Regions from separate parts of the Homo sapiens genome. Here region 2 is linked to region 1. The links come from fine-mapping of genetic effects on gene expression. A gene starts in region 1. The other region holds a variant in brackets. All regions are shown on one strand. Distances are from middle to middle. Region 1 holds the start of TJP3 (tight junction protein 3). Region 2 overlaps TJP3 (tight junction protein 3).

Region 1 (9,474 bases):
CTGGGCTGTGACCGATTCTGTCTTTCCTGTTCTGTGACCTGTTAGTCTGTGCTGGGCAGGTCTTTTGCAGAATAACTCTCAATGTGGGGACATTGGGGACCAGCTGTTTCCCTCATGACTAGACTGGCGTCATGGGTTTTGGGGGACCCTGGGAGGTTTTAAGGAAGCCGTGTGGAGAGGACGGGGCAGGAGCAGAGACAGAGAGCAGAGATGGAGGGCAGCCAGGTGGGAGGAGACGCCCCGGTCTGTGGGTTGCCAAGATCCAAACGACCTTTGAGGAAGGGCAGATTCTAGGTGTGGCCGGCTCAGCCCTAAGGCACTGGAGGGCTGAAGAACGTCTCAGGGTTTGGCGTCCTGGGGAGGCTGGAGGACCTCATGGGGGGCACTTTGAAGTAGGACTCATGGGGGGCACTTTGAAGTAGGAGGAGTGTGGAACCTGCTAGAAGCTTGGAGTATGGAATGCAGCTCAGGGTGTTCAACAGGGGACTTTCTTTTCTTTTCTTTTTTTTTTTTTTGAGACAGAGTCTTGCTCTGTCACCTAGGCTGGAGTGCAGTGGTGCAATCATAGCTCACTGCAGCCTCCACTTTCCTGGGCTCAAGCGATCCTCCCACCCCAGCCTCCTGTGTAGCTGGGGCCACAGGTGCACGCCACCCTGCCCAGCAGATTTTTGTATATTTTGTAGAGACGGTATCTCGCTATGTTGCCCGGACCTGTCTTGAACTGCTGGGCTCATGCGATCCTCCCACCTCGGCCTCCCAAAATGTTGGGATTCCAGGCGGGAGCCACCAAGCCATGCCAAAGATGCCATTTCCCCCAAAAGGGAGGACGGCTGAGCTCTAGAAGGAAGTTCCACAGCAGAGAGAGAAAAGCAGAGCCCATGTGAATTCCAGCCCCTGCCTCAGCTTCCTCATCTGTAAAACGGGGATCCCGGTTTTGACCCTGAGCAGTATTTCAGGGAAGGCTCAAAGGTTTAAGCATCTGCCACTAAGGATCCCCTGGGCTGCCTCTCCATGCTTCTAACTCCACTCGGGCCCCCAGTGGGAAAGCCAAAGGTGAATTACAGTGTCCCAGGGCTAGAGGGGGCCCCCTGCCCCATGGAAACCATCTACGCTAAGGTGCTGTCATTCTGGGCACGGAATGACATTTTTGAGATGGAGTCTTGCTCTGTCTCTGGGGCTGGAGTGCAGTGGTGCGATCCCGGCTCACTGCAACCTCTGCCTCCCAGGTTCAAGCAATTCTCCTGCCTCAGCCTCCCAAGTAGCTGGAATTATAGGCACACGCCAACACACCTGGCTAATTTTTGTATTTTTAGTAGAGACAGAGTTTCACCACGTTTGCCAGGCTGGTCTCAAACTCCTGGGCTCAAGTGACCCACCTGCCTTGGCCTCCCAAAATGCTGGGATTACAGGCGTGAGCCACCGTGTCTGGTCCAGAGGAGAACTGAAAGAACACACACACACAGGCAATCAAGAATGCTGAGGCCGGGTCGGTGGCTCTCGCTTGAAATCCCAGCACTTTGAGTGGCTGAGGCTGGCAGATCACTTGAGCCCAGAAGCTCGAGACCAGGCCGGCCAACACAGCAAAACCCCATTTCTATTTTCAATTTTTAAAAAAAAGAAAGAAAGGAAACAAATTAATTCCCCTCTGTATAGGCTATAAAGTCTTACCGGTTCCCATATTAATTAATGAATTAAGCAGACACATAAAGCACCTTTTTTTTTTTTTTTGTACTTTTAGTAGAGACAGGGTTTCACCATGTTAGCCAGGCTGGTCTTGAACTCCTGACCTCGTGATCCACCCGTCTCGGCCTCCCAAAGTGCTGGGATTACAGGCGTGAGCCACCGCATCCGGCCTCATTTTGTATTTGTATGAGAGTAATGATTTTACTATTTTGGGAAAAAATATCCTTTAATATCATAAAGCCAAATGTCTTCAGGCCAGCATTTAAAGCTCTCCCTTCATTTTGGCCGGACGCGGTGGCTCACGCCTGTAATCCCAGCACTTTGGGAGGCCGAGGCGAGCGAATCACCTGAGATCAGGAGTTCGAGACCAGCCTGACCAATACGGTGAAACCCTGTCTCTACTAAAAATACAAAAATTAGCTGGGCGTGGTGGTGGGCGCCTGTAATCCCAGCTACTTGGGAGGCTGAGACAGGAGAATCGCTTTGAACCCAGGAGGTGGAGGTTGCAGCGAGCGGAGATCGTTCCACTGCACTCCAGCCTGGGCAACAGAGCGAGACTCCATCTCAAAAAAAAATAAAATAAGGCCGGGCATGGTGGCTCACGCCTGTAATCCCAGCACTTTGGGAGGCTGAGGTGGGCGGATCACAAGGTCAGGAGAGACCATCTTGGCTACCACGGTGAAACCCCGTCTGTACTAAAAATACAAAAAATTAGCCGGGTGTGGTGGCGGGCGCCTGTAGTCCCAGCTACTCGGGAGGCTGAGGCAGGAGTATGGCGTGAACCCGGGAGGCGGAGCTTGCAGTGAGCCGAGATCGCGCCACCGCACTCCAGCCTGGGCGACAGAGCGAGACTCCGTTTCAAAAAAATATAAAAAGTAAAATAAAGTTACAAAGCGCCTCTCACGCATGTTACCCTCTGTGCAGCCATTGGCTCCATTACTGCGCTCTTGTTTCATGTCTGTCTTTCCCCACCAAAATATGCGCCCCACGAGAGCAGGAAGCTTGGCCTGCCTTGCTCACTGCTGAATCTCCAAGGCCTGGTGACCCCACACTCGCGCATACAGTAAGTGCACAATAAATGCCCGTTCGCTCCCTGGGCGACCCCTCCCCCCAGCCTAGGCTTCCGCTAACCTCAATCCATTCCAAAGGGTGTCAGGTTCCACCCTGAGCAAACACAGCTCCCCTGGCCCCTGGCCAGCCCTAAAGAGGAAGAACAAGTACCCATACTCCCTGCCCTGGACTTTCCCCGGGACTCAGGGCCACGAGGAAGCACCAAGCCAGGGGGCAGGACTTTCTCGAGATGCTGAGCCTGAGGCATCAGCTGGGGGCAGGGCCAGCCTCCAGAGCACCACCCCCGCCACCAGCTCCCTGTCCTCTGCGTCTTGACTCTTGGCCGCCTGACATTTCTACTTGGCTGTGCGGCCCGGGGTAAGCGGCTGTCCTTCTCTGAGCCAGGGTTCATCCTCTACAAACCAGGAAGCTGATGAGACCAGACTCCGATTCGGACCGGGATAGCTCGTCTTGACCCCAGAATGACCGAGAATCTGTTACCCGCTTTATTACATCCGGCACTCAACAGCCCTGTGCCTTGGTGACTCCATATCCCCCCACCCCTTTTTTTTTTTTTTTTTTTGAGACAGAGTCTCACTCTGTTGTCCAGGCTGGAGTGCAGTGGCACAATCTCGGCTCACTGCAACCTCCACCTCCTGGGTTCAAGCAATTCTCCTGCCTCAGCCTCCGGAGTAGCTGGGATTACAAGTGCTTGCCACCATATTCGGCTCATTTTTTGTATTTTTAGTAGAGACAGGGTTCCACCATGTTGGCCAGGCTGGTCTCGAACTCCTGACCTTGTGATCCACTCGCCTCGACCTCCCAAAGTGCTGGGATTACAGGCGTGAGCCACCGCGCCCGGCCCTCAATATCCCCATTTTACAGAGCAGGAAACAGAGGCCCGGAGAGAAGGGAGGTGTGGAAGCCAGATCTAACTGAGTCCACGGGTTTGCTCTCAAAACCCAGGCAAGGTGGGATCCATGTCGCCCACCCCCACGGACTCCCGAATCTCAAGCAAGCCTGCTCCCTGGGAGCTCTGCAGCCACACAGCCACAAGGTGACCCCAAATGCCGGGCCGCTCTGTCCCCCACTATGCGATCATCCATGCCTCCTCGGCCCCGGGGGACCCTCTTGGTTCTGGAGAGAGACTTGAGATGCAATCGGACACTTGGCTCACGAGGAAGCTCCCTTGGTCTTCCCATTTGGGAGCAAATGACCCAGAAAAACACTTTTGCTGCCGACCCCTCCCCTCTCTGGCTCTGAGCGCTCCTTCCTCCTTCCCCTCTGCCCCATCCCACAGAGATTTTGCTCGGAGGAGTAAAGATTAGAAAAAGAAGTCTGGGCGCAGTGGCTTGCGCCTGTAATCCCAGCACTTTGGGAGGCCGAGGGGGTTGGATCACCTGAGGTCAGGAGTTCGAGACCAGCCTGGCCAACATGGTGAAACCCCATCTCTACTAAAAATACAAAAATTAGCTGGGCATAGTGGTGGGCGCTTGTAATCCCAGCTACTCGGGAGGCAGAGGTGGAGGCAGAGGTTGCAGTGAGCCAAGATCGCACCACTGCACTCCAGCCTGGGCAACAAGAGCAAAACTCCGTCTCAAAAAAAAAATTAGCAAAAGAAAGGCCACCCCAATCCCTCCCTGCAAAGCTCCTGGAGGTTCCAGCGGTGAGAACAGGGTGAGGGGTTGGGGGGCGGGAGACGCAGTTGTTTCAAAACTTGGGAGCCTTTTAAGAAGTTCCAGGAGGCTCAGAGATGAGTGAGGTCGCAGCCTTTCCCACCTGTCACCTCCTAGCCTCGGGCTGCAGGAGGTAAACCCAGGCTCCGTCTGGACTGATATCCCCTCCCCTCCTCAGTTAGGGGGATCAGAGACCAACCTGTGCCCCTTTGCCGCCTCCCCGGTCCCTGCGCCACCTAGGTAACAATGACCCTTTTAAGTTTCCAGCTCAGCGTCCTGGGCAGGCCGCCAGGTGCAGTAACTGCCGGTCAGATAATCCCTACGAAACTATGTCAGATGCCCACGCAGGAGTGTCAGTTTCCTGCTTTCCGAGGAGCCGGGGAGACAGCTCGTGGTGGGGGAGGTTGGGGGGGAGTCTAAGGACCCTCAGCTGGGGAAGGCCAGCTCAGACAATGCACACTGGGTGGAAAAGCACAGTGGGGCGGGGGACTTACCTGTCTAGGAGGCTGGGTGGCCTCTGGGCAGGCAGCAGGTGCCAGGGCCCGGGTGCCTGCCTGGCACGGGTGGTGGGGAGGGAACCCGAGGCTTGTAGCTCTGGCCTCCCCACCTGTTTGACCAACTTTTCCTCTCTTGTGGTGGCAACAGGGAGGCAGGTCCCCTGCCAGTGGAACTGACGACCACAGACACAGGGAGACGGACCAGGGTGAGGGGCGGGCCAGCAGGAGGACTGGGTGTGTGGCTCTGTCGCAAGGTGCCCTCACGTGGGAGCAACTGGCCTTAACCCCTGCTTGCCCAGAGGTGAGCTTGCTCCTGCCTGTGCCCTCACCGCCGAGGCCCTGGTATCAAGCGTCCGCACATGGTAGGTGCTTAGGAAACCCTCGTTGGCTACATTCAGACATGAATGGACCGCACTCCCGGAGTCCCCCTCCCTCCTGCTTCTTGCATCTGGAGCTGCCCAGTCTCTGTGCTTGCTGAGCCTCCTGCCAGGCACGCCGGCCCATCAGGCTGTGGCTTGGCGCACTCCCTTCCCCACGCAGATCTGTGCGCAGTCTGCCTCTCTGCTACGAAGTGACTGGGTTCCTACGTACAGAAGCTTCTGCCACTTCCCCGCTGTGTGGCTTTGGGCAAATTACAGGGGCTTCTTGCTGTCCTCATCTAAAAAACAAGAAAGGGTCAGGTGTGGTGGCTCACACCTGTAATTCCAGCACTTTGGGAGGCCGAGGTGGGAGGATCACTTGAGCCTGGGAATTTGAGACCAGCCTGGGTAACACGGTGAAACCCATCTCTAGAAAAATTTTTATATATCTTTTGTTTGTTGTTTGTTTTGAGATGGAGTCTCCCTCTGTCACCCAGGCTGGAGTGCAGTGGCGCGATCTCGGCTCACTGCAACCTCCGCCTCCTGGGTTCAAGTGATTCTTCTGCCTCAGCCTCCCAAGTAGCTGGGATTACAGGCGTGCACCACCACGCCCAGCTAATTTTTTTTTTTTTTTTCAGTAGAGACGGGGTTTTCCTATGTTGGCCAGGCTGGTCTCAAACTCCTGACCTCAAGTGATCTGCCCGCCTCGGCCTCCCAAAGTGTTGGGATTACAGGCGTGAGCCACCGAGCCTGGCCTAGAAAAGTTTTTTTGTTGTTGCTGCTGGCTGTTGTTGGTTTTGTTTTGTTTTTTGTTTTTATTTTATTTTTTTTTTATTTTTTTGAGACAGAGTCTTGCTATGTTGCCCAGGCTGGAGTGCAATGGCTTGATCTCGGCCCACTGCAACCTTTGCCTCCCGGTTTCAAGTGATTCTCCTGCCTCAGCCTCCCGAGTAGCTGGGATTGCATTACAGGCACCAGCCATCATGCCCAGCTAATTTTTGTATTTTTGTAGAGACGGAGTTTCACCATATTGGCCAAGCTGGTCTTGAACTCCTGGCCTCAGGTGATCCGCCTGCCTTGGCCTCTCAAAGTGCTGAGATTACAGGCGTGAGCCACCACGCCCAGCCCAGAAAACTTTTTTAAAAATTAGCCAGATGTGGTGGTACACACCTGTAGTCCCAGAAACTCAGGAGGCTGAGGTGGGAGGATCAATTGACCCTGGGAGGTTGAGGCTGCAGAGAGCTATGACTGTGCCACTGCACTCCAACCTGGGTGACAGAGCAAGATCCTATCTCAATAAAATAAAATTAACCAGGAAGGGTTGGGCATGATGGCTCACACCTATAATCTCAGTACTTTGGAGGCCAAGGTGGCAGGATCACTTGAGGCCAGGAATTCGAGACCAGTCTGGGCAACATAGTGAGACACCCCCCCATCTTTACCAGTACATTAAAATTAAAATTTAAAAAATTAAGTCTGGGCTCAATGGCTCACCCCTGTAATCCCAGCACTTTGGGAGGTTGAGGTGGGAGAATTGCTTGAGTTAGGAGTTCGAGACCAGCCTGGCCAACATGGTGAAACCCCATCTCTACTAAAAATACAAAAATTAGCCGGGCAAGGTGGCATGCGTCTGTAATCCCAGCTACTCAGGAGGCTGAGACGGGAGAATCGCTTGAGCCCCAGAGGCAGAGGTTGCAGTGAGCCGAGATCGCGCCACTGCACTCCAGCTTGGGAGACAGAGCAAGACGCTGGCTGAAAAATAAATAAATAAATATTAAAATGCCACCTCACAGAGGTCATGGACTTTGTCGTGCTCATCCCTGCCGTGTCCTATGGCCTAGCACAGTGCCTGGTACACAGTAGGTGCTCAATACATGTTTTTGGAATGAATGGACTAGGGTCCCTCCAGCCTGCAGTACCTCCTGCTGACGGTAGTAGCCACTATGGCCACCAGGCGGCGCCAGAAACCACGCAACCGGCCCCCGCCGGGCAGCCTCGGTTTTCCACCCTGCGTAATGGGGACAGCCAACCAGGGGCGTGGGGGGATGCGGGGAAGGCACAGAAGGCTGGTGGCTCTCCCGGACCCCAGCCCCTCCTCTCTGTCCCTTGCCTCTCCCCTCCTGTCACCCCATCCCTGCCCTAGTTTTCTTTTTTTTAAGTTTTTTGTTTGTTTGTTTGTTTTTGTGTTTTGAGACGGAGTCTCACTCTGTCTCCCGGGCTGGAGTGCAGTGGCGCCATCTCGGCTCACTGCAACCTCTGCCTCCCGGGTTCAAGCGATTCTCCTGCCTCAGCCTCCCGAGTAGCTGGAATTACAGGCATGTGCCACTACGCCTGGCTACTTTTTTGGTATTTTCAGTAGAGGTGGGGTTTCATCATGTTGGCCAGGCTGGTCTCAAACTCCTGACCTCAGGTGATCCACCCACCTCTGCCTCCCAAAGTGCTGGGATTACAGGCGTGACCCACCGCGCCCGGCCAAGAGGCTGCTTTTAACTGCTTGTTTTGATGTTGACTTTTGCGTCTGTAAGTCATGACTGTTCAGCCAGTTTTAGTAATTTTTTTTAAGTATATTTCCTCTTCATTATCCTCATCAATGATCTAACCTCCAGCACTTCCTCCACTTTATCTGGCATCCAAATTGCCTGGAAGGGGGAAGTCATGAACACCCAGATTTTACCACCCCCACCACCCCGCCCAGTTTCTGGTGTGTGAAGTCTGCGTTGGAGCCTGGGAAACTGCATTTCTTTTCCTTTTCTTTGGTTTGAGACAGAGTCTCGCTCTGTCGCCCAGGCTGGAGTGCAGTGGTGCAATCTCGGCTCACTGCAACCTCTGCCTCCTGAGTTCAGGTGATTCTCCTGCCTCAGCCTCCCAAGTAGCTGGGACTACAGGCGCATGCCACCACGCCTGGCTAATTTTTATACTTTTAGTAGAGATGGGGTTTCTCCATGTTGGCCAGGCTGGTCTCGAACTCCTGACCTCAAGTGATCCGCCCACCTTGGCCTCTCAAAGTGCTGGGATTACAGGTATGAGCCACCGTGGCTGGCCCCTTCCCCCAAACTTTATCTGGCACCCAGTTTGCCTGGAAGGGAGGAGTCATGAACACCCAGATTGTGCCCTCCCACCACCCTACTCTGCCCAGTTTCTGGTGTGTGAAGTCTGGGTGGGGGCCTAGGAACCTGCATTTCTTTTACTTTTCATTGTTTGTTTTGAGACCAGGTCTCGCTCTGTTGCCCAGGCTGGACTGTAGTGGTGTGATCATAGCTCACTGCAGCTTCAAACTTCTGGGCTCAAGCGATCCTCCCACCTCAGCCTCCCAAGTAGCTGGGACTACAGGTGTGCACCACCATGCCAGGCTATTTTTGTTTTTTTGAGAGGAGTTTCGCTCTTGCTGCCCAGGCTGGAGCGCAATGGCGAGATCTTGACTCACTGCAACCTCTGCCTCCCGGGTTCAAGCAATTCTCCTGCCTCAGCCTCCTAAGTAGCTGGGATTACAGGCATGCGCCACCATGCCCGACTAATTTTTGTATTTTTAGTAGAGACAGGGTTTCTCCGTGATGGTCAGGCTGGTCTCGAACTCCTGACCTCAGGCGATCCACCTGCCTCAACCTCCCAAAGTGCTGGGATTACAGGCGTGAGCCACTGCATCTGGCCACGCCAGACTAATTTTTAATTTGTTTTGTAGAGATGGGATCTTGCTATGTTGCCCAGGCTGGTCTTGAACTCCTGGGCTAAAGTGATTCTCCTGCCTCAGCCTCAATCCCAAAGCACTGGGATTACAGGCATGAACCACTGCACCTGGCTTTGGAACCTGCATTTCTAACAAGCTCCCAGGGTGAGGCTGATGTGGCTGGCCCAGGGACCACACCTTGAGAGCCAGTGGTCTAAATCTTTTTTCAAAACAGATTCTGGGTGAATCAGGAGCTCTGTCCATGACCTGCGTCCAAAGAACTCTTCCTGGAGCCTTAAAATGGTCAAGGCCGCCTGCAGTGGCTGACGCCTGTAATCCTCACACTTTGGGAGGCCGAGGTGGGCAGATCACCTGACACCAGCCTGGCCAACACAGTGAAATCCCATTTCTACTGAAATTACAAAAATTAGCCAGGTATGGTAGCACACACCTGTGGTCTCAGCTACTTGGGAGGCTGAGGTGGGAGGATCGCTTGAACCTGGGAGGCAGAGGCTGCAGTAAGCCGAGATCACGCCACTGCACTC
Region 2 (9,474 bases), 31 kb before region 1:
CAAGCAATTCTCCTGCCTCAGCCTCCCGAGTAGCTGGGACTACAGGTACGCGCCACCACACCTAGCTAATTTTTGTATTTTTAGTAGAGACGGGGTTTCACCATGTTAGCCAGGATGGTCTCAATCTCTTGACCTCGTGATCCACCCGCCTCGGACTCCCAAAGTGCTGGGATTACAGGCATGAGCCACCGCACCCGGCCATTGTTTCTACAGTTGTTAATTTGGAGTCTTCTCCAAGGGACCTTGCCTGTCGTGTTCACTGCTGTCTCAGAAGATCAATAAATTTCTCTTAAACAAATAACAGGTGGCACTTTGCCTCAATTGGCAATGGCTACCTGGTGAACTGTGTTAAGAAGGATTTGGAGGTTCTATCCAGACAAACGGTGCCAAGATGGATTGAGGATGTCTGGCTTGGGTATTGGGGGGGGCACTGGTGGCCCATCTGCTTCATGTTTGCCATCATTATTCTAACTCTCCCCCGACCCCCCACAAAAAAACAGTTGTGAAACTATTTCACCAACGAGGTTTCCAGAGGATCTGGCTTCTCACCTGCGATTTCAAACTGGTCAGGCATCTCAGCAGTCAACTTCTGCATAGCAATGTCGGCCACGGGTCCCAGGATCACTACCGGGCGCTTGAAACTGGCTGAGGGGTAGAGACACAGTGAAAGAATCAGGGTCCCATTTGCGATCAAAGACTGCTAGTGTGTTGTACAAACCCCTCCACTTCCTTATAGTAAACAGCCTATTTAACCAGGACCATAGCTACCCAGCCAAATACTACATCTCCCAGTGTCCTTTGCAGCTAGGTTAGCCTTATGACCAAATAATGGCCAATGGAACACTAGCAGAATTGATGTGTACATTTCTGGGTTCCGCCTTCAAGGGCAGGAATAAGCCCCTCTCCTGCCTTCATTCCCTTTCTTCCTGGCTGTAGGGTCTCTTTTTAGCAGTTGAACCTAGCTAACTCATAGGTCAGCAGACTACAACCTGAGGGCCACATCTGGCCCACTGCATGTGTTCGTCAATAAAGTTTTATCAAAACACAGTCACAACCATTTCTTTATGTCCTGTCTATGGCTACCTTTGAGCAGAGCTGAGTAGTTCTGCCAGAGACTAGCCCACAAAGCCTAAAATAGTTACTATGTGATCCTTTGCAGGAAAAGTATGTTGACACCTGGCCTACCAGATACACCATTTTACCACTGAAGAAACAGTCACAGAAGCGTCTTGAGGGGAGAAAAGTGGTAGCCCAGGGTCTTTGCAACTTAATCCTTCTCTTTCTCCCTTTCTTTCTTTTATTTTATTTACTTTTTTTTTTGAGATGGAGTCTAGCTCTGTGGCCCAGGCTGGAGTGCAGTGGCGCAATCTTGGCTCACTGCAACCTTCACCTTCCAGGTTCATGCAGTTCTCCTGCCTTAGCCTCCTGAGTAGCTGGGATTACAGGCGTGCGCCACCATGCCTGGCTAATTTTTGTATTTTTAGTAGAAACTGGGTTTCACCATGTTGGTCAAGCTGATCTCGAACTCCTGACCTCGTGATCCGCCCGCCTCGGCCTCCCAAAGTGCTGGGATTACAGGCGTGAGCCACCGCACGTGGCCTATTTACTTATTTTTTTGAGACAGAGTCTTGCTGTGTCACCGAGGCTGGCGGTGCAGTGGCTTAATCTTGGCTCACTGCAACCTCCATCTCCCAGGTCCAAGTGATTCTCCTGCCTCAGCTTCCTGAGTAGCTGGGATTAGAGGCGCCCACCACCACGCCCGGCTAATTTTTGTATTTTCAGTAGAGACGGGGTTTCACCACGTTGGCCAGGCTGGTCTCGAACTCCCGAACTCAGGTGATCCACCCACCTCCCAAAGTGCTGGGATTACACCTCGGCCTCCCAAAGTGCTGGGATTACAGGCGTGAGCCACCACGCCTGGCCGTGGCCTTGTATTTCTAGGACGTTTTCATCTGGATGTTGGAGCAGCGCGATGACAGTGTCAAAGGCTTTTCTCAAGGTCCATCCACCCACCCCTGTCCCGGGCAATTTGCTCTTCCCACCCCTTTTGTGGTTTTATTTGGAAAATCGCTGCACCTGGGTTTTTAACCCCCTGTCCTCTGATAAGAGCTTAATCTCTTCCCTTCCTGAAATCAGGATGAGGCATTTTTCCCCCCAGAGTCTGGCTTTGTTGCCCAGGCTAGAGTGCAGCAGCATGATCATAGCTCTCCGCAGCCTCGACCTCCTGGGCTCAAGGGATCCTCCCACCTCAGCCTGCCAAGTAGCTGGGACTACTGGCGTACCACCACACCTGGCTAATTTATTTTTTATTTTGTAGAGACAGAGTCTCACTTTGCTGTCCAGGCTGGTCCCAGACTCCTGGGCTCAAGTGACCCACCCATCTTGGCCTCCCAAAGTGCTGGGATTACAAGCGTGAGCCACCACGCCCGGTCAAAGAAGATAAATTATTAAAATTATTATTATTGCTATTTCTTTTTCCTTTTGTAAGGCTATCTACATGCCTTGCACCATATTTCTGTTGGAGACACAAATAGATTTTTAAGGAATGAACCCCCTTCCTGTCCTTCTGTCCCCTAAAATAACCCAAAATTTTTTTGTTTTTTTGTTTTTTTTGAGACGGAGTTTTGCTCTTGTTGCCCAGGCTGGAGTGCAGTGGTGTGATCTCCGCTCACTGCAACCTCTGCCTCCCGGGTTCAAGTGATTCTCCTGCCTCAGCCTCCCAAGTAGCTGGGATTATAGGCACCTGCCACCATGCCCAGCTAATTTTTTGTACTTTTAGTAGAGATGGGATTTCACCATGTGGGCCAGGCTGGTCTAGAGCTCCTGACCTCAGGTGATCCACCTGCCTCAGCCTCCCAAACCATTGAGATTACGGGCGTGAGCCACCGCACCCAGGCCCAAAAGTATTTTTGATAGAAGGAGAGTGGTTAGAAACATGCTTTTTTTTTTTTTTCTTTTGAAGACAGTGTCAATCTGTGGCCCAGGGTGGAGTGCAGTGGTGCGATCATAGCTCACTGCAACCTCTGCCTCCCGGGTTCAAGTGATTCTCCTGCCTCAGCCTCCCAAGTAGCTGGGATTACAGGCGCCTGCCACCATGCCCAGCTAATTTTTTGTACTTTTAGTAGAGATGGGATTTCACCATGTGGGCCAGGCTGGTGCGATCATAGCTCACTGCAACCTCGACCTCCCAAGCTCAAGCAATCTTCCTGCCTCAGCTTCCCAAGCAGCGGGGACTATAGGTATGCACCACCATGCCCAGCTATCTTTTTAAATTTGATGTAGAGGCCGGGCGTGGTGGCTCACGCCTGTAATCTCAGCATTTTGGGAGGCTGAAGCGGGTGGATCGTGAGGTCACGAGTTCAAGACCAGCCTGGCCAACATGGTGAAACCCCGTCTTTACTAAAAATACAAAAATTAGCTGGGGGCGGGGTGATGGGCGCCTGTAATCCCGGTTACTTGGGAGGCTGAGGCAAGAGAATCGCTTGAATCAGGGAGGCAGGGGTTGCAGTGAGCTCAGATCACGCTATTGCACTCCAGCCTAAGACAGAGCAAGACTCTGTCTAAAAATAAAAATAAAAACAAAAATAAATAAATAAATAAATTTGAGGTAGAGATGTAGTCTTGCTTTACCGCCCAGGTTGATCTGGAACTCCTGGCCTCAGCGATCCTCCTACCTCGGCCTCCCAAAGTGTTGGGATTATAGGCGTGAGCCACCACGCCGGGCCAAGACTGTGCCTTTTAGAGGCTGAATGTTAGTGAACAGGTGCACCAGGAGCTGTGTGTGAGGCCTCCCCAGGGCCCCTCCAGCTCCGGGCCCCACCTTCTCGCAACACCACTCGTTCGTAGGGCGGGTAGCGGCCCTGTCGGGTCAGAGCTGAGAGGTCCTCACGGCTCCGCTGAGTGGTCTTCTTGGCTCCTCGACGAAGACCCCGCAGCCGCCAGAACTCGGCCCGAGCATTGGAGCCCGCGGAGGAGCCGGGCCCGACTCCCACGGCCCTCTGGGCAGCTTCCAGGCTGGCCAGCTGCTCCGCCCTGGGGAGAAGAGGGGACAGTACTGAGCACTGGGGTCAGCAGCATGGTGGCCCCAAAGACGTCCTCGTCCTACCCCTCGGAGCCTGTGGACAGGCCACTTTGTATGGCAAAAGGGACTCTGCAGATGGGATTATTATTACTATTATTATTATTTTGGGTTTTTTGAGACAAAGTCTTGCTCTGTCACTCAGGCTGGACTCGTTACAACCTCTGCCTCCTGGGTTCAGGCGATTCTCCTGCCTCACTTTCCCAAATAGCTGGGATTACAGGTGCCCGCCACCACGCCCAGCTAATCTTTATTATTTATTTATTTACTTTTTTGAGATAGAGTCTCGCTCCGTCGCCAGGTTGGAGTGCAGCGGTGCAATCTCTGCTCACTGCAACCTCCGCCTCCCAGGTTCAAGCGATTCTCATGCCTCAGCCTCCCAAGTAGCTGGGATTACAGGTATGCACCACCACGCCCAGCTAATTTTTGTATTTTTAGTAGGGATGGGGTTTCACCATGTTGGCCAGGATAGTCTCAATCTCTTGACCTCGTGATCTGCCCGCCTCAGCCTCCCAAAGTGCTGGGATTACAGGCGTGAGCCACCGTGCCTGGCCTGCAGATGGGATTAAACTGATGCTATTGAGGTGGATGATGATCCTGGGTGACCCAGGGGACCCGATGTCCTCACAGGGTCCTCACAAGAAGAGGCGGGAGGGTGAGAGTCAGAGAGAGACTAGAAGAGGCTGTGCTGTGGCTATGAAGGGGGAGGAAGGGGCCCCGAGCTGAGGGATGCGGCCCCTCTAGACTCTGGGAAAGGTGGAAAATTGGTTTTCTCCTGGAGCCTCTGGGAGGGCCCAGGCCTGCCCATACCTTGACTTTAGTACTTTTGC[T/C]CTCCAGAACTGTAAGAGGATGTGTGTGTTGTTTAAAGCCACTAAGTTTCTGGGCATCTGTTACAGCAACAACAGGAAGCTCATACCAGCACCAAATGGGGCCCGCCCAGAGCCTTTTGTGGACCTCCTCAGATTGAACCACCAACACTGCTAAGCAGTGATATCATGCCTATTTATTTATTTATTGAGACAAGAGTCTCACTCTGTTGCCAGGCTGGAGTGCAGTGGCGTGATCTCGGCTCACTGTAACCTCTGCCTCCCAGGTTCAAGCGATTCTCCTGCCTCAGCCTCCCAAGAAGCTGGGATTATAGGCATGTGCCACCACGCCCAGCTAATTTTTGTATTTTTAGTAGAGACGAGGTTTCACCATGTTGCCCAGGATGGTCTCGATCTCTTGACCTCATGATCTGCCCACTTCAGCCTCCCAAAGTGCCAGGATTACAGGCCTGAGCCACCGCGTCCAGCCCAATCGAGCCCATTTCTAACGGGGAGACTGAGGCTGAAGCAGAAGTGCCCCACTGCAGGAGCACACAGTCCCCACCTGCTCTGGTTGGGAATGATGCCCCGCTCTTGCTCCCGCAGGTCACGACCCATGCGCACCGCCAGCCAGTGGCCTCCTCGTGCGTGGCTCTGCCCGGGGCCGGGGTGCAGCGTGTCCAGCACGTGGAAGACGTCGCCACGGGTGAAGCCCAGGCCAGACGGTGGACTGGGCTCCAGCTCAAAGTGAGTGCGGATGTAGAAGGAGTCACCCACGCGGGACTGCACCATTTTCCAGAAAACTGGGGAGAGCGGGAGGCCACATGAGCTGCCTGGGCTGCTGCCTGATCTGAGCCCTCCCCACCCGAGAGTGGGCCTGGCTGGAGATTTGGGGCACTCTCCCTGTAGGGGCCAGGGAGAGGGATGGAGGGTGCAGAGATGCAGATTCAACCACATCCCTGCACTCACCACCAGGCCACACAGCCAGGTCCTCCCCCCGCAACACACAGGCACACCCATATCCACGCGCACTCACTGTCCTGCTTCCTCTGCGTCACCAGCTCCATCTCCTCGCCTGGTGGCAGCCCCAGCAGGAACTGCACTGCCTCCTCCCGTGTCAGGTTCTGGAATGGCACGTCATTCACCTGCCAGAAAGCAAGTGCAGCTATAGAAAAAGCTCTGGTACCTCTTGGGCGTGCATGAGATCCTGGACCTTCCTCTGGGCAAAACTCAGCCCCAGCTGCTTCCAGAGCTGCTGCCAAGGGACCCGGCAGTTCCCCGAGGGCTTTCCGACTGGGGTATCACCCTATGGCTGTGTGATGTGTGACACAGACAGCTGGTGGCATTGTAAGGATACAAGAGTTTTGACACAGAAACGGGCACAGGCACTGCACTTGTCCTCAGATAACCAAATCATGGTGGGTTGTCAATATCAAAACATGGGAACAGAGGTCATGGCATGGAGCTCGATGGAAACTGTGTGAAATGCTCAAAAGAACTCAGACGTAGTCACAGTAGTCACAGGGTCGTGACAGGGACAACGATATATGGACACACAGTGGGTCACAGATGCCTACCACCAGGGTCATGACAGGGACAACAATATATGGACACAGCCATCTGCTCTCCGGGTCATGACATGGACAGCAATATACAGACACAGCCACCTGCTCTCAGGGTCATGACATGGACAGCAATATACAGCCACCTGCTCTCCGGGTCATGACATGGACAGCAATATACAGCCACCTGCTCTCAGGGTCACGACATGGACAGCAATATACAGACACAGCCACCTGCTCTCAGGGTCATAACAGGGACAGCAATATACTTGCACAGCTTGTGGGCACAGACACCTACTCTCGGGGTCATGACGTGGATGTCAAGGTTAGAATCCCACAAGCAAAATGAGTAGAAATACAGTAAAAAATACCATGACCCTCAGGCAATTTGGCATCAAGTTTTCACCCAGCCAGTGGGCTTATGACATGGAAAGTGGGGAGCTGTGACTCCATCATGAATCACAACTCACACTGCAAGGTCAAGACACAAGCAAGGTCATGAGAGCAAAGTGGGGGTGAGACTTGGTGAGTGAACTCGCGCAAGGGACAGGGGAGACAGCCTGGGGATGAGATGAGGCAAGGACAGAGATGGGGGGATGATGAGGGGCTGTGGATCCTGGAGGTAGTTATGACACTGTCATGAAGGCAGGACACAGGCAAGGTCACAACACAGACACAGGGGATGGTGGCACAGAAAATGACTATAAGTGGACATGGAGATCATGAGAGAATGATCTGTGACCTGACCACACGATTAGGACATACAAGACGGTCATGACACGGTCAACACAGCCAATGTCAGGAACAAGAGGATTGCGACCCAGACAAGGTCATGACATAGGCAATGAGGCTGTGACCCAAAGTCCTGACATTGATAACAAGGAGATTGTGACATTGATAACAAGAATGTCACATGAACAATGTCATATGACATGAACAACAAGATTGTTGTTCCCAATCTTGAGCACAGTGTCTCAAGCTTATAATCTCAGCACTTTGGGAGGCTGAGGCGGGTGCATCACTTGAGGCCAGGAGTTCAAGACCAGCCTGGCCAACATGGTGAAACCCTGTCTCTACTAAAAACACAAAAATTAGCTGGGCATGGTGGCGGCCACCTGTGATCCCAGCTACTTGGGAGGCTGAGTCAGGATGATCCCTTGAACCCGGGAGGCGGAGGTTGCAGTGAGCCAAGATCACACCCCCGCACTCCAGCCTGGGTGACAGAGCAAGACTCTATCTCAAAAAAAAAAAAAAAAAAAGTTAGCCAGGCGCAGTGGCTCATGCCTGTAATCTCAGCTACTTGGGAAGCCGAGGCAGGTGGATCACCTGAGGTCAGGAGTTTGAGACCAGCCTGGCCAACATGGCGAAACCCTCATCTCTACTAAAAATATAAAAATTAGCCGGGCGTGGTGGTGGACAACTGTAATCCCAGCTACTCAGGAGGTGAGGCAGAAGAATTGCTTGAACCTGGGAGGCAGAGGTTGCGGTGAGCCAAGATCACACCATTGCACTCCAGCCTGGGCAACAAGACCAAAACTCCATCTCAAAAACAACAACAACAAAAAATGAACCCAGATAAGGTCAAGGCACAGAAAAGGAGGTTGTAACTGGACGATGAGGTCATGACCTGGAAGATAAGGTCGTGACATCAGCAAAATCATGACACAGCCAAGGAGACACTGAAATGTTCAAATACCCATCTGGGGTCTCGACAGTCCCCAGGTGGACCCAAGGGGAGGACTGGAACAGACAAGGGCAGGACCTAGCACACTGCACGCCCATGATCAGTGGGGCTGGCCAGCCGCCCCCGGAGCACCTGCAGAATCTGATCTCCCTCCTGGATGCCCTGCCCGTCGGCCGGGCTGCCCGCCTGCACCCCGGACACGAAGATGCCCACGTCATTGCCCCCTGCCAGCCGCAGCCCGATGCTCTTGCCCTTGAGGAAGCGGACCACACGCGTGTCGGGGCTGTACCTGCAAGGGGAGGCAGAGATGGGGTCAGAGCAGAGTGGGCGGACAAAGGGAGGGCTCAGCATTGTCCTTGGGAAAGCCCCCACCCCCTCCAGGCCTCAGTTTCCCCAAAACCCCCACTTAATGGTCCCACTCAACACAATGGATACAAGCAGGCAGGATTGCGCTGATGAGGGAGGCAGCCTGGGATGTAGGAGTTTTGAGCGGGTTTGCTTTCTTCTGGGGTACATACCCACGATCCTCCATGCTCTGACTGCTGGGCACTCTGTAGATGTCATAGCTGCTTTCCCTGGGCAACTCTGAAAGGGAAAAGCCAGTCTCTTTCCCAAGCACACTGGCTCAGTCCAGCCTCCAAACCTTTGCTTTATGTCCTCATCCTGGAAGGACTGTCACCCACCTCGAGTCCTTCTCAGGAAACCATGTCTCACCACTTAGGCTCAGGCCAACCTCCCCCAGCTCTGCCTGGCACAGCCTTGCTGTCAGGGATCAGAAATGTCAGGGACAGGGGTGCTCAGAGTCACCACCCACCTGACCGTTGCTCATCTGGTTCCGAGATGGTTCTGGAATCTACTGAACTTTCCCGCCGAAGCCGGGGACTCTCCCTGGTGGGGAACAGATTGGGAGTGAGGCAGGGATGGATTTCAAGGGGCCATTTTAAAAAGAATTTTAGGCCGGGCACGGTGGTTCATGCCTGTAATCCTAGCATTTTGGGAGGTCGAGGTGGGCAGATCACCTGAGGTCAGGATTTCAAGACCAGCCTGGCCAACGAGGTTAAACCCCGTCTCTCCAAAAATACAAAAATTAGCCGGGCATGATGGTGGGCGCCTGTAATCCCAGCTACTCAGGAGGCTAAGGCAGGAGAATTGCTTGAACCCGGGAGGCAGAGGTTGCAGTGAGCCAAGATCATGCCACTGCACTCCAGCCTGGGCGACAGAGTGAGACCTTGTCTCCAAAAAAATAAATAAATAAATAAACAAAATAAAAATAATTTTAATTTATCTGGGCTGGGCGTGGTGGCTCACGCCTGTAATACCAGCACTTTGGGAGGCTGAGGCAGG

The links.
Region 2: its variant is fine-mapped to the expression of TJP3 in whole blood (TOPMed, PIP above 0.99).

The regions. Positions count from the first base shown.
Region 1 is chr19:3,703,991-3,713,464 of GRCh38, reverse strand. TJP3 (tight junction protein 3) reads right to left here and starts at 5,081. Exons shown (of 21, transcript NM_001267560.2): 1 at 4,904-5,081. RefSeq lists enhancers at 1-414, 415-916, 2,930-3,475, 4,311-4,972, 4,973-5,636.
Region 2 is chr19:3,735,110-3,744,583 of GRCh38, reverse strand. TJP3 (tight junction protein 3) reads right to left here. Exons shown (of 21, transcript NM_001267560.2): 9 at 8,945-9,018; 10 at 8,649-8,715; 11 at 8,263-8,419; 12 at 5,921-6,029; 13 at 5,450-5,687; 14 at 3,821-4,032; 15 at 550-645. Among named protein-coding and RNA genes, the nearest start is that of APBA3, 22 kb to the left of the region's middle. RefSeq lists a silencer at 7,557-7,757. The variant T/C (reference allele first, on the strand shown) is at 4,909.